Linked DNA regions of Homo sapiens: region 2 is linked to region 1. Evidence: fine-mapped expression QTL. A gene starts in region 1. The other region holds a variant in brackets. All regions are shown on one strand. Distances are between the middles of the regions. Region 1 holds the start of MYL6B (myosin light chain 6B). Region 2 holds the start of SLC39A5 (solute carrier family 39 member 5).

Region 1 (5,367 bases):
CATCACTCTTGGGGTTCCCCAGGACCTTGAGCACCTCGGCGTTGGTGGGGTTCTGGCCCAGGGCCCTCATCACGTCCCCACACTGGCTGTACAGGATCTTGCCATCCCCCACTCGGTCAAACAGCTCGAAGGCCTCCTTGAACTCTAAAGTATAAGGAAGGGTCAGTGTAGACACTGACTAGGGTTCCCATCACCCCCAGACAGAAGGGAATTTCAGAAACTATGTGAACAGAACAAGGGAGGAAAAGAGGACTAGTATGGGAGGTTTCAAGGTCAGGACTGGGGTTAGGGGAATAGAAAGAGAATCTGACCAGGGGATTGGGGATGGGACAGTGGCCTTAGATGAGCTTCTCCTCACCCTCCAGCTGGTCCTTGTTAAACTCGATCTGTGGAAGAAAAAAGCAGGTGGGGAGAGATGAGAGTTTATTCAATCCCTCTCCCGCACTCCTCCCAACCAACTGGCAGCCACTTCTGAGGAGGGGCCCAAAGGGACCAGGCTGGAAGCCCAGCCACCTCAGTCCCATTCCCAGCTCTGGGCCTTGGGAGAATCCCAAGAAGAGGAATTACAGTGGGGAGGGTTTCCTGGGAACAGGGTTAATCCCATGCCACCTGTTTCCCTCCCTCCATTGCCCTGAGCCCTGCATCCCACACATAACTGGGGGCTGAACAAAGGCTAAATTTACCCCTGGCCCCCAGCTGTGATTGTCTAACAAGTCTGTCCTCTTCAGCCTCCCCTCCTGGAGTTCAGAGCTGCAGGCCTTTTGAATTGAACCACCAGCCAGGGGCAGGCAACAGCTCTCTTCCCTTCACCTTGAAACTGTTCTCAGAACCCAGATGTTCCCCATCTAAGAGTCCCTGCCTCCAGCAGGGGGTAAGTGAGTGTGTATGTGCTGTACACACATGATTATAGGTTAGAGGGAGAGAACAGCAAAGACAACAGCAGAGTCATAAGACTGGATGCTTCCAAATGGGGGACTAAGGGAAAGCCCCAATCTCATTCCAGGGCTCACTGATTCCCTACCTTCTAGATACCCCCTAATCCCCTAGGCTGTATCCCACCCTCAAACCACCCCCTCCAATTCTATCTTCACTTTCCAGAGACTCACCACCACTTTGGAGAGATCGACTGGAGGCTCCTGGGTTTTCTGAGGGGCCTGGGGGACAGCTGGCTCAGCTTTGGTCTTGGCTGGAGGAGCCCCTGCTGCTGCTGGCTTAGCAGCAGGTTTGGAGATGGAGGGCCCTGCTGGTTTCTTCACGGGAACATCCTTCTTGGGAGGCATGATGTCCGGTGGCCAAAGGACAGTGTGCGGATGGGGGCACCCATCTCTGTTTAAATAGCCAGGGAGTCTGGGATGTCAAGGGGCGGGGGCAGGGGCAGGGAGCCAGTTGGCTGTGGCAAAGATGAGGTAGAGGAGAGATATAACCGCCTGCCCTCACTCCCCTGGCCTCCTATGGTTCAGGACTCCTGCCCCAAGGTCTTCTTCCCTCTGTCCCCTTATCCCCAAAGGCTGACCAGAAAAGAACAATGTTTCCTTTAGGGGTAGGGGAGGAAGCCAGAGACTGCCCAGAATGAGGTAGTTAACCTCCAGGGTGAGGATAGGATGCTTGCCAGTGGCACTGAGATGGGGGTGGTGAGGCAAAGCAGGTGATCCAGCAGCTTTAGTCTTCTTGAAGGGTGGGGTGAGGGGTAGCAGCCAGGGAGGCTTGTGTGAACTGGAACAAGTTAAAGTGTGGTCTGGGAGCAATGACAAAAACAAGAAGCCCATCTGCCCAGCCCCTCCACTCCCTTCTGACCATGGCTTTGTAAAGAGCAGGGGTAGTTAACCTTAGAGTCTAATGATCCCTAATACTTGTAGTTCCTGAGCCCCCACCCAGCCAAGAACTGGAACTATTCACAGTATAAAGGAAGAATAGTCATAAAAACAGGAGTATGACATCCCTCATTGTCTCCTGTGCCCAGTGTTGTTTTAGGGGCAGGAGTGGGGGCAAAGATCAGGTTTAACATCTGCTACCCATTCTTCCATGGAAGAAACCTTCCACAAGCCCACGGTCATTCAAGACAAACAAAAGGTAGGGTGCTTGCTGAACCTGTGGGGACCCTTTGGTGGCACCTGAGGAGAAGGGCAGGCTCTGGGAGACGGCTTAAATTCCCTAATCCAAGAGGATGTGGGCGCTCCTATGGCTCCATGAGTATTCACCCCACAACCAGGGGTATAATAAAAATCCTGACTCAGGGGCCAGGTCACAAACCTTGCCAGGGGCGCTGGGAGAGAGTCCAAGTTGGGGGGCGTTTGGGAGTGGGGAGGGATTGCAGGCTACTTTTGTTCTGGGGTAAATTAGGAAAGGATTTAGGTAGCATTCTGAGGAAGATAGCAGTGATTCCACTTAGGCCCCGGGGTTGATGCTGGGTCTCCCATTCGCAAAACAGCGTCTGAATCTCATGACTGCAAATTGTCCCATTTTTACAAAATACATCACACACACACGACACACACACACACACACACACTCACGCACCCCCACTAAATCTTAAAGAAAATGGCCCTCCTCAGCCCCCAAAAACTCACCCTGCGGGGTCCGTGTCTGGGGCTGGGGAGGGGGCGGGGCATAGCGCGGCCCCCAGCCCTGAAGGGTTAATTCCGGTGGCCGCGGAGCATGCCGGGAGTCGTAGTTCCCCGCGGGCTCACGGGATGCGCCGCGCTCTAGATTGCAGTTGACGCGAGGGCGGTGGCTTCCGGCCCATGGCGGTGGTTGGTGACTCAGTGTCCTTCCAGCGCGCTTTATGTCCCGGAACTGAAAGGCAATGAACAATTTCCAATCCACCCCAACCCTAAAAACCCTGCGGGGCCCCTAGGGTATCCCTCCTACTTAACCCTGGCGGGCTCCTAGTCTCGGGAGGTGGAGGGGGCGGGGCGGCTGTTTTCCTGGACCTACTGCTGAAAGAACTCAGAACCTGGGGAAAGATTGAGGCTGCAGCAGGCAGCGTGGAGGTCAGATAGCTGGAAGCACTTAACGGCCCCGGGGAGAACCGCTGCACTCTCTTTTGCTTCCTCTCGCGGTTTGGTAGAAAAAAAAGAGGCCTCAGAGTAGTTTGTTTTTAATGAGCTGGTTGCTGAAGTAAATGTTAAAATTTGCAATTAAGCCCAGTCACCTGCCCCAGCCTTCTCTGATCGAGGTTTCCATCCTGCGGCAGCATATGCGCCATCCTCCTCGATCTTCACAGGTCTCTGAGCGGAGGGCTGGGCTTTCCAGCCCTACTTTCTGAAACTCTTATGGTCAGCATTGGAGTTCACTGGTTCCCCTAGGCGTTGATCAGAGGATGGGAACCAGCCCGGCCGGGCCCACCTTCACTCACTGGATCAGTAAATACCCTGGCGGTGCACCTGGTGTTGGAAGCTGGTGCTGCACAGGCGTGTGAGGATTAGATCAGAGCAGAAAACTCGGGCGATGGCAGGGTGGTGAGGCACAGGTGAACTTTATGGGCAGTAAGTGAGGTTCACTGGTTGGGGAAAGTTTATTGGAAAGGTAGAAATGAATTGTACGACAGAAATAACGATAATAGTAAGTTAGCAACCATTTCTGGAGGCCGCCATAGATCTCGTACCGGTGAAGGGGCTAAATTATCTCAGAGGGTGCTCAAGTGGATGGGGTTCAGACAGCCTACTCAGATTTAAATCCTGGTTCTACCAGGTCCTAGTTAGTGACCCTCAGCAGGTTTAGTTATCTCTCCTGGGCCTCAGTTCCTCATCTGTAAAATAATGATAATGGTACCTACCTCATAGGGCTCTTCGGAGGATTCGAAGTGTTATTATTGGTAAAATAGGGCCGGGCTTGGTGGCTCACACCTCCCAGCACTTTGGGAGGCGAGGCAGGTGGGTCACCTGAGGTCAGGAGTTCGAGACCAGCCTGGCCAACATGGTGAAACCCTGTCACTACTAAAAATACAAAAAAAAAAAAAAAAAAAAAAAAAAAAAAAAATAGCTGGGCCTGGTGGCGGGCGCCTGTAATCTCAGTTACTTGGGAGGCTGAGGTCGGAGAATCACTTGAACCCGGCAGGTTGCAGTGAGCCGAGATCGCACCACTGCACTCCAGCCTGGGTGACAGAGTGAGACTCCAACTCAAAAAAAAAAAAAAGTGTAAAATAGAATAGGCCTGGCACAGCATAAGTGCTGTATAAGTTTTTGTTAAATAACTTTCCTTTAATCTTCCCAAGGTATGAGGTCGCTGATATTTTCCCCATTTTACATCAATGAAGTAAGGATCAATAGGTGTTGTGAAGAGACGGAGAGGAAGAAGGAATACATTTTTAAGTGGTTATAAGACTGGGAAAGGGCCACATTATAGATGCCTTTGTGTGGCTTTCATTACTTTTGCAGACATTGATTTCAAAATATGGCTCTTGTAATTTTTTTTCTTTCCTTTTCCCATTTTTGGCATTTTGCCAAGTATGAGTGGTTATGGCATCATCTGACTTTCTAGCATTTTCTATAGAGAAGTAGTACAGGGAAAAAACGTTAAGACCCTTGCAGAGATGGGAAGGCTATCCTTCATTTTCTGTGCCATCCCTGTCTTGATCATAAATAACAGGAACTGGACGAAACATGGTCTTAACTGGGCATAGGGTGATTATATATGTGAATTATCTGTGAGAAATGCCTGTCTCTCCTCTCTCCTCTCCCTGCTTAGCATGTGATTTGTATATTCTTATTTTTCTTTGGTTTTGTTTTTTTCTAGAAATGAGGTCTCACTGTGTTACCCAGTCTCAAACTGAGCTCAAGTGATCTTCCCATCTCAGGTGCCTCCCAAAGTGCTGGGATTATAGGTATGACCTACCTTGACTGGCCTGTATATTCTTAGAGATTGCATTTTGTGGGCAGGGAGGGAGGTGAGTCCGAAGCTTGCTTGCCTTCCCTAGGCATGCCGTCCTCCAGGAACCTCCACATGTTCAGCTGTCCAGAGTGGCCCATTAGATTGAAAGAATATGGAAAGCCATTGGGGAGCTGTTCCGCAGTGCACAGGTCTATGCACACTTACCCCCAAAGTCCAAGGAAGCTAAGAGGTTGAGGAAGGAGGCTGACAAATCCAGTTTCTTAGAAATATTTAATAGGAATTTATGAACAGAAGCCATGTCTGTGTCTTGGGTAGTGGTGAGACACGATGGTGGATCCCCAGGACATCATCCCCTGGAGTAAGTCCTGACCCCAGGACTTACCACAGGGAAGGAACCTCTAGGACAATTGAAGTCTACCCTGCAGGGAAAGGCAAGAATACTCAGTAAGCCAGGCTTTATGATCAAGATTGTTTTGATCTAAGGAGAAATTATGGTAAGTACATGCTCTTACACAAAGAACAGTAGATAAAATAGAA
Region 2 (5,353 bases), 79 kb before region 1:
CTACTAAAATACAAAAAATTAGCTGGGCATGGTGGCGTGCACCTGTGATCCCAGCTACTCAGGAGGCTGAGACAGGAGAATCGCTTGAACCCAGGAGGCAGAGGTTGCAGTGAGCCGAGATTGCACCAGTGCACTCCAGCCTGGGCGACAGAGTGAGACTCCATCTCAAAAAAAAAAAAAAAAAATTAGCTGGGGATAGTAGTGAACACCTATAATCCCAGCTACTCGGGAGGCTGAGGCAGGAGAATTGCTTTAACCCAGGAGGTGGAGGTTGCAGTGAGCCAAGATCACGCCATTGCACTCCAGCCTGGGTGACAGAGTCAGACTCTACCTCAAAAAAATATATATATATATATTTAACACCTGTCCTTCCATTGCATAGACTCCTGGGTCTCTCCCAGGGTCCCCTTTGCTCCTACTGGCAGGTACCTTGGGGACTAGGGCCAAGGGTACTTATAATCAATGTGTATTATTAGTGAATATTCAGTCCAATGCAGGTATTCAATTTGATGCAAACTGGGTGCTAGTGAGCATTGTCATCATCTTCCCTGCAAACTCTGATCATTTCAATCATTTTGTTGATTTGATAAATGAAGCTGGTTGGAAAACTAGAGCTCTCCATGCCAGAATCTTAAAAGGGAAAAGACCCTGAAATGCCATCTAATCTCCCTCTCAACAGCCCTGTCGATGTTCATCCAGCCTCAGCTTGAATGCTTCCTGCAATGGGCACTCACTGGACCTCCATCAGGGTTAGGCAGCTTTGTCTGCCCTCTGGTGTAAGTGGAATATATTCTCTGTCTTTCTGGATGAAGACAGCCATCCATTCCCTGCAGGTCTCCTCTCCAGGTGACCATCCAGATCCTACCCTGGGCTGCTTCTCTAGATTCTCTGCTTTGCCATCTATTCCCCTAAACTGAGTCTTGGAGCTCTGGATATGGGCTCACCTGCTCTGATCCCAGAGGGAACATAGTTCACTATTGAAATAACATCCCCTAAGACCACAGTGAGATATTTTTTTTTTATTTTTTTATTTTTTTTATTTTCATTTTTGAGACAGAGTCTCGCTGTGTTACCCAGGCTGGAGTGCAGTGGTGCAATCTCGGCTGACTGCAATCTCCGCCTCCTGGGTTCAAGTGATTTTCCTGCCTCAGCCTTCCGAGTAACTGGGATTATAGGCATGTGCCACCACGCCCAGCTATTTTTTTTTTTTTTTTTTTTTTTTTTTTTTTTTTTTTGAGACAGAGTCTCCCTCTTGTTGCCCAGGCTGGAGTGCAAATGGTGCCATCTTGGCTCACTGCAACCTCTGCCTCCCAAGTTCAAGCAATTTTCTCACCTCAGCCTCCTGAGTAGCTAGGATTACACACACCTGTTACCACACCCGGCTAATTTTTGTATTTTTTAGTAGAGATGGGGTTTCACCATGTTGGCCAGGCTGGTCTCGAACTCCTGACCTCAGGTGATCCACCCACCTCGGCCTCCCAAAGTGTTGGGATTACAGGCGTGAGCCACCACGCTTGGTCCACGTTGGGATTTAAAAACAAAACAAAACAAAAAACTACTGATTATTTAAACATTTCAGGCCATCTAATCCCATGGCTCCTTCCCCTCTAGAGACCGTCAGACTCACATCCTCATTCAGGTGGTCAGCCAATGAGTGGTCCAGCAACAGAAGCCTGTGAAGGAGGTCCAGGCCCGAGGGGGCTGGCCCACGGGGTAGGTGAGGGGCCTTTGACTCTTCCAGGTCACCCCACCCTGAGGGACCCAGAGGCATCCCTGCCCAGACATCCACACTCAGCTCAGGGTTCTGTGGCCTGGAATGGATGAGACAGCAAGTCAGCCTCCCTTGTGTTCTCTATCAACCCGCTTTGAGAGGCTCCCAGGGATTTTAGGGGGAATGGGGGGACTAGCCACTGACTGGAGATCCTGGGACCCAGAAACCATGGAATGTCATTCTTAGGAAGATCTGTGAGTTGTCCATTTTCTGCCACTGGGGGGGACAGAAAAAAAAGGACGACAACCAAAAGGGCTACGAATGGCTGGGCACGGTGGCTCACGCCTGTAATCCCAGCACTTTGGGAGGCTGAGGTGGGTGGATCACCTGAGGTTGGAAGTTCGAGACCAGCCTGACCAAAATGGTGAAACCCCGTCTCTACTAAAATTGCAAAAATTAGCCCGGCGTGGTGGTGTGTGCCTGTAATCCCAGCTACTCAGGAGGCCGAGGCAGGAGAATCGCTTGAACCGGGGAGGCAGAGGTTACAGTGAGCCAAGATCACACCACTGCACTCCAGCCTGGGCGACAGAGCGAGACTCTGTCTCAAAAAAAAAAAAAAAAAAAAAAGAAAAGAAAAGAAAAAAGAAGTCTACGAATTTGGAGCCAAATCAGCCCAGAGACACTGAACAGTGATACTAAGAGCAAGAAATTTAAGGGCTTAGAGATTTGGAGGAGGAGAGAATTAGAAGGCAACGGAGGGCTAGGGTGGTAGTTCACATCTGTAGTCCCAGCACTTTGGGAAGCTGAGGCAGGCAGATCGCTGAGCTGAGCCCAGGAGTTTGAGACCAGCCTGGGCAACACAGCGAAACCCTTGTCTCTGTAAAAAATTTTTAAAATTAGCCGGCTGTGGTGGTGTGTGCCTATGGTCCCAGCTGCTCAGGAGGCTGAGGTGGGAGGATGGCTTCAGCCTGGGAAGCAGAGGTTGCAGTGAGCCGTGAATGTGTCACTGCACTTTAGCCTGGGTGACAAAGCGAGACCCCCAGTCTCAAGAAAAGAGAGAGAAGGCAATAGAAGCATGAGAGGTTTTGAAGAGATACCAAGGAGCTCGGTTCTGAAGAATTTGTAACTCCAGGGATCTCGTGAGGAAGCCAGAACGAGGCAACTGGGGGCAAGCACTGAGAGGACCTGGGAGATGTGGCCCTGTGGAGTGGAGGAAGGGGTCAGTACCTGTGTGTGGAATTGTCTGCAGCTGGGGATGCAGCCCGTCCAGTCAGAGGCCCATGCTGTCCCAGGCGAAGCCCCTGAACTCGGCCTAGCCCCAGGCTGTGGAGAAGCCGCGCCAAGCCCCCTGCAGTCAGCGTCCCATTCTCGCCGTACAGGCCAAACAGCTGGGCCAGGTAATGGTTCTGCTCCTGCTCAGCAGGGCCCAGGTTGGGGACTGAGCCCCCTACCCAGCCCAAGACGACCCACACACAGAAGCCGGCCAGCAGATGACTCACTGGGGACCCCATCATTGGTGAGGGGAAT[A/G]GCTTAGGGGCTCAGGTTCTGGCTCCTATTCTCCCCGAAACATCCTGAGGACTGTGCCCTGGAAGAATGAGGAATGGGCTGGAGCTGCGCTCTGCTCTCCAGCTCAGGTCCATGGGGGAGCCAGAGCTCCTTGCACCTGCTCCCCACCGAGTCCAGCAGCAGCCCCTACTGCAGCCTTCTTTCTCCCTTCACACTGCCTCCTGCGGGAGCAGCCTCTTGTTTGCTGGTTCCTGGAGCACCTCCCTGAGTCAGAGCTCTCCTCATACTTCATCCAGAGCTGACCGTCCATTCCTTGTCCCCTAAACCCCACCCCTCAACTTTGCCCCACCTCTTTATCCCCCCTCAATCCCCAGGGCCTCACCCCTACTGGCAACATAAGAGCTGTCACCTCAGGTCCCCTATTAGGCCTTGCTGTAGACGTTAAGCAGTTCCTGAGTCAGGGAAGGGGGAATCCAGGCTTAGCCTCCAGGTGTCCAGGTGGATCGGAGGCCACGTCACATAGAAGGCTGAGATGGACATGCACCCCCTCCTAGCCCACCTGCCTTGGGGCGGGGTCAGGGGTGGGGCCAGTGTGTGAAGGCTCACATAAGAGAGGAGTTAATGGTTCACTGGTCTCTGGGGTAGGGATCAAAAGTCAGTCTCTGCTGGGCCCCTGGGTAGGGAGGGGCCACCCTCTGCCCTGGGAAAGCCACATGGCTAAGGAGAACCTGGGCCTAGTCTTTTTCCTCTTAAATAATTCACCCTATCCTTAACACCATTAGTACCATTTTAGCCCTTTCCCTCATGTACTTCCACCCCACCTACCTTACAGTCTAGCACTAAACTTCATCTCCAACCCCCATCCCCATATTCCTTGGGAAGGTTGGACCCAGGTGTCCCTAACCTGGGGAGGAGGGGGGAAAAGGCAGATCAGTGGCAAGCCCAGATGCATGCATGGGAAATAAACTGTTCTTAGCAGTTTCTCACCCCAAGAAGAGAAAGAGCCAGAGCTCTAGGGATCGATGACCAAGAAAGGGGAAGCCCTGCGGGGGGAGAGGAAACAAGGATCTGGGCTCTCCTCTGATGTCTGACCTGGCCTAAAATCAGGCAAGCAAAGTCTGATCGGGGTGACTGGTCCAGGGGGTTGAGGTTGGCATTACCTGATAGCAGGAGACAAGGACACCCAGAGGAAGGGGGACACAACCTTCTTGGTTCCAGCTGGGGGGGCAGGCAGGCAGGCGGGCAAGGGTCACCTGCAGGGAGGGGGTAGGGGAGGGACACTACCTTAAAGGGGCAGGTCTGCTTTGCCTGGGCCTCCTTACCTGTAACCTATTTTCCTTCCACCTTCTAGGGACACCCCACCTTCCCAAATGCCTAGTTGCTAACCTCTTCCTTTTCCCACAGAAAGCAAAGGAGTCCAACACAGAGTAGAGTGGTAACATTTATTAGGAAGGAGAGACTTCAGTTAGACTCCCATGTCTCACACAGAAGAAACAGATGGTAACTGCCATTTCTTTCTTTCTTTCTTTCTTTCTTTCTTTTTTTTTTGAGATGGAGTTTCGCTCTTATTGCCCAGGCTGGAGTGCAATGGTGCAATTTCGGCTCACCTCAACCTCCGCCTCCCGGTTTCAAGAGATTCTCCTGCCTCAGCCTCCTAAGTAGCTGGGATTACAGGCATACGCCACCATGCCTGGCTAATTCTGTATTTTTAGTAGACACGGGGTTTCTCCATGTTGGTCAGGCTGGTCTTGAACTCCCGACCTCAGGTGATCCGCCCACCTCGGCTTCCCAAAGTGCTGGGATTACAAGCGTGAGCCACTGCGCCCAGCCAGTAACTGCCATTTCTAAAGAGGAAAGAGAGCAGGCAGAGGGTCCTGACTCCCAGGGGACAGGTAGTTCAGCTGGACAATGAGGGAGTATGAGATTAGGGTGGATAAGGACACTGCTCACCACCCTCCACTGAAGTTCAGTGGCTAAAATACTGCTACACCAGCCAATCAGTGGAAGGCTATCTTGCTCTCCAGGGGACACTTGGGATGTGGTTGGTGGCAGGAAGAAAGAATGTCATGCTATCTCTTGCTGCTCCTCCGGGTTTCTTTGCCGTTACTAACAGGGTTGCTGGAAGGGCCAGGCGGG

The links.
Region 2: its variant is fine-mapped to the expression of MYL6B in blood mononuclear cells (TOPMed, PIP 0.95).

What each region holds. Positions count from the first base shown.
Region 1 is chr12:56,149,832-56,155,198 of GRCh38, reverse strand. MYL6B (myosin light chain 6B) reads right to left here and starts at 2,612. Exons shown (of 8, transcript NM_002475.5): 1 at 2,568-2,612; 2 at 1,107-1,326; 3 at 359-386; 4 at 1-144. The coding sequence starts at 1,280. LOC124902942 reads right to left here and starts at 3,372. Exons shown (of 3, transcript XM_047429954.1): 1 at 3,152-3,372; 2 at 2,568-2,793; 3 at 1,302-1,390. The coding sequence starts at 3,205. The coding sequence ends at 1,356. It overlaps MYL6B-AS1 (MYL6B antisense RNA 1), which reads left to right. Exons shown (of 3, transcript NR_186043.1): 3 at 4,214-4,403. It overlaps LOC124902943 (a long non-coding RNA gene), which reads left to right and starts at 1,326. Exons shown (of 2, transcript XR_007063328.1): 1 at 1,326-2,070. RefSeq lists an enhancer at 3,459-3,538.
Region 2 is chr12:56,229,147-56,234,499 of GRCh38, reverse strand. It overlaps NABP2 (nucleic acid binding protein 2), which reads right to left. Exons shown (of 7, transcript NM_024068.4): 7 at 4,646-5,353. The coding sequence ends at 5,287. SLC39A5 (solute carrier family 39 member 5) reads right to left here and starts at 4,449. Exons shown (of 13, transcript NM_173596.3): 1 at 4,378-4,449; 2 at 4,205-4,260; 3 at 3,627-3,669; 4 at 2,939-3,296; 5 at 1,628-1,811. The coding sequence starts at 3,225. The variant A/G (reference allele first, on the strand shown) is at 3,239.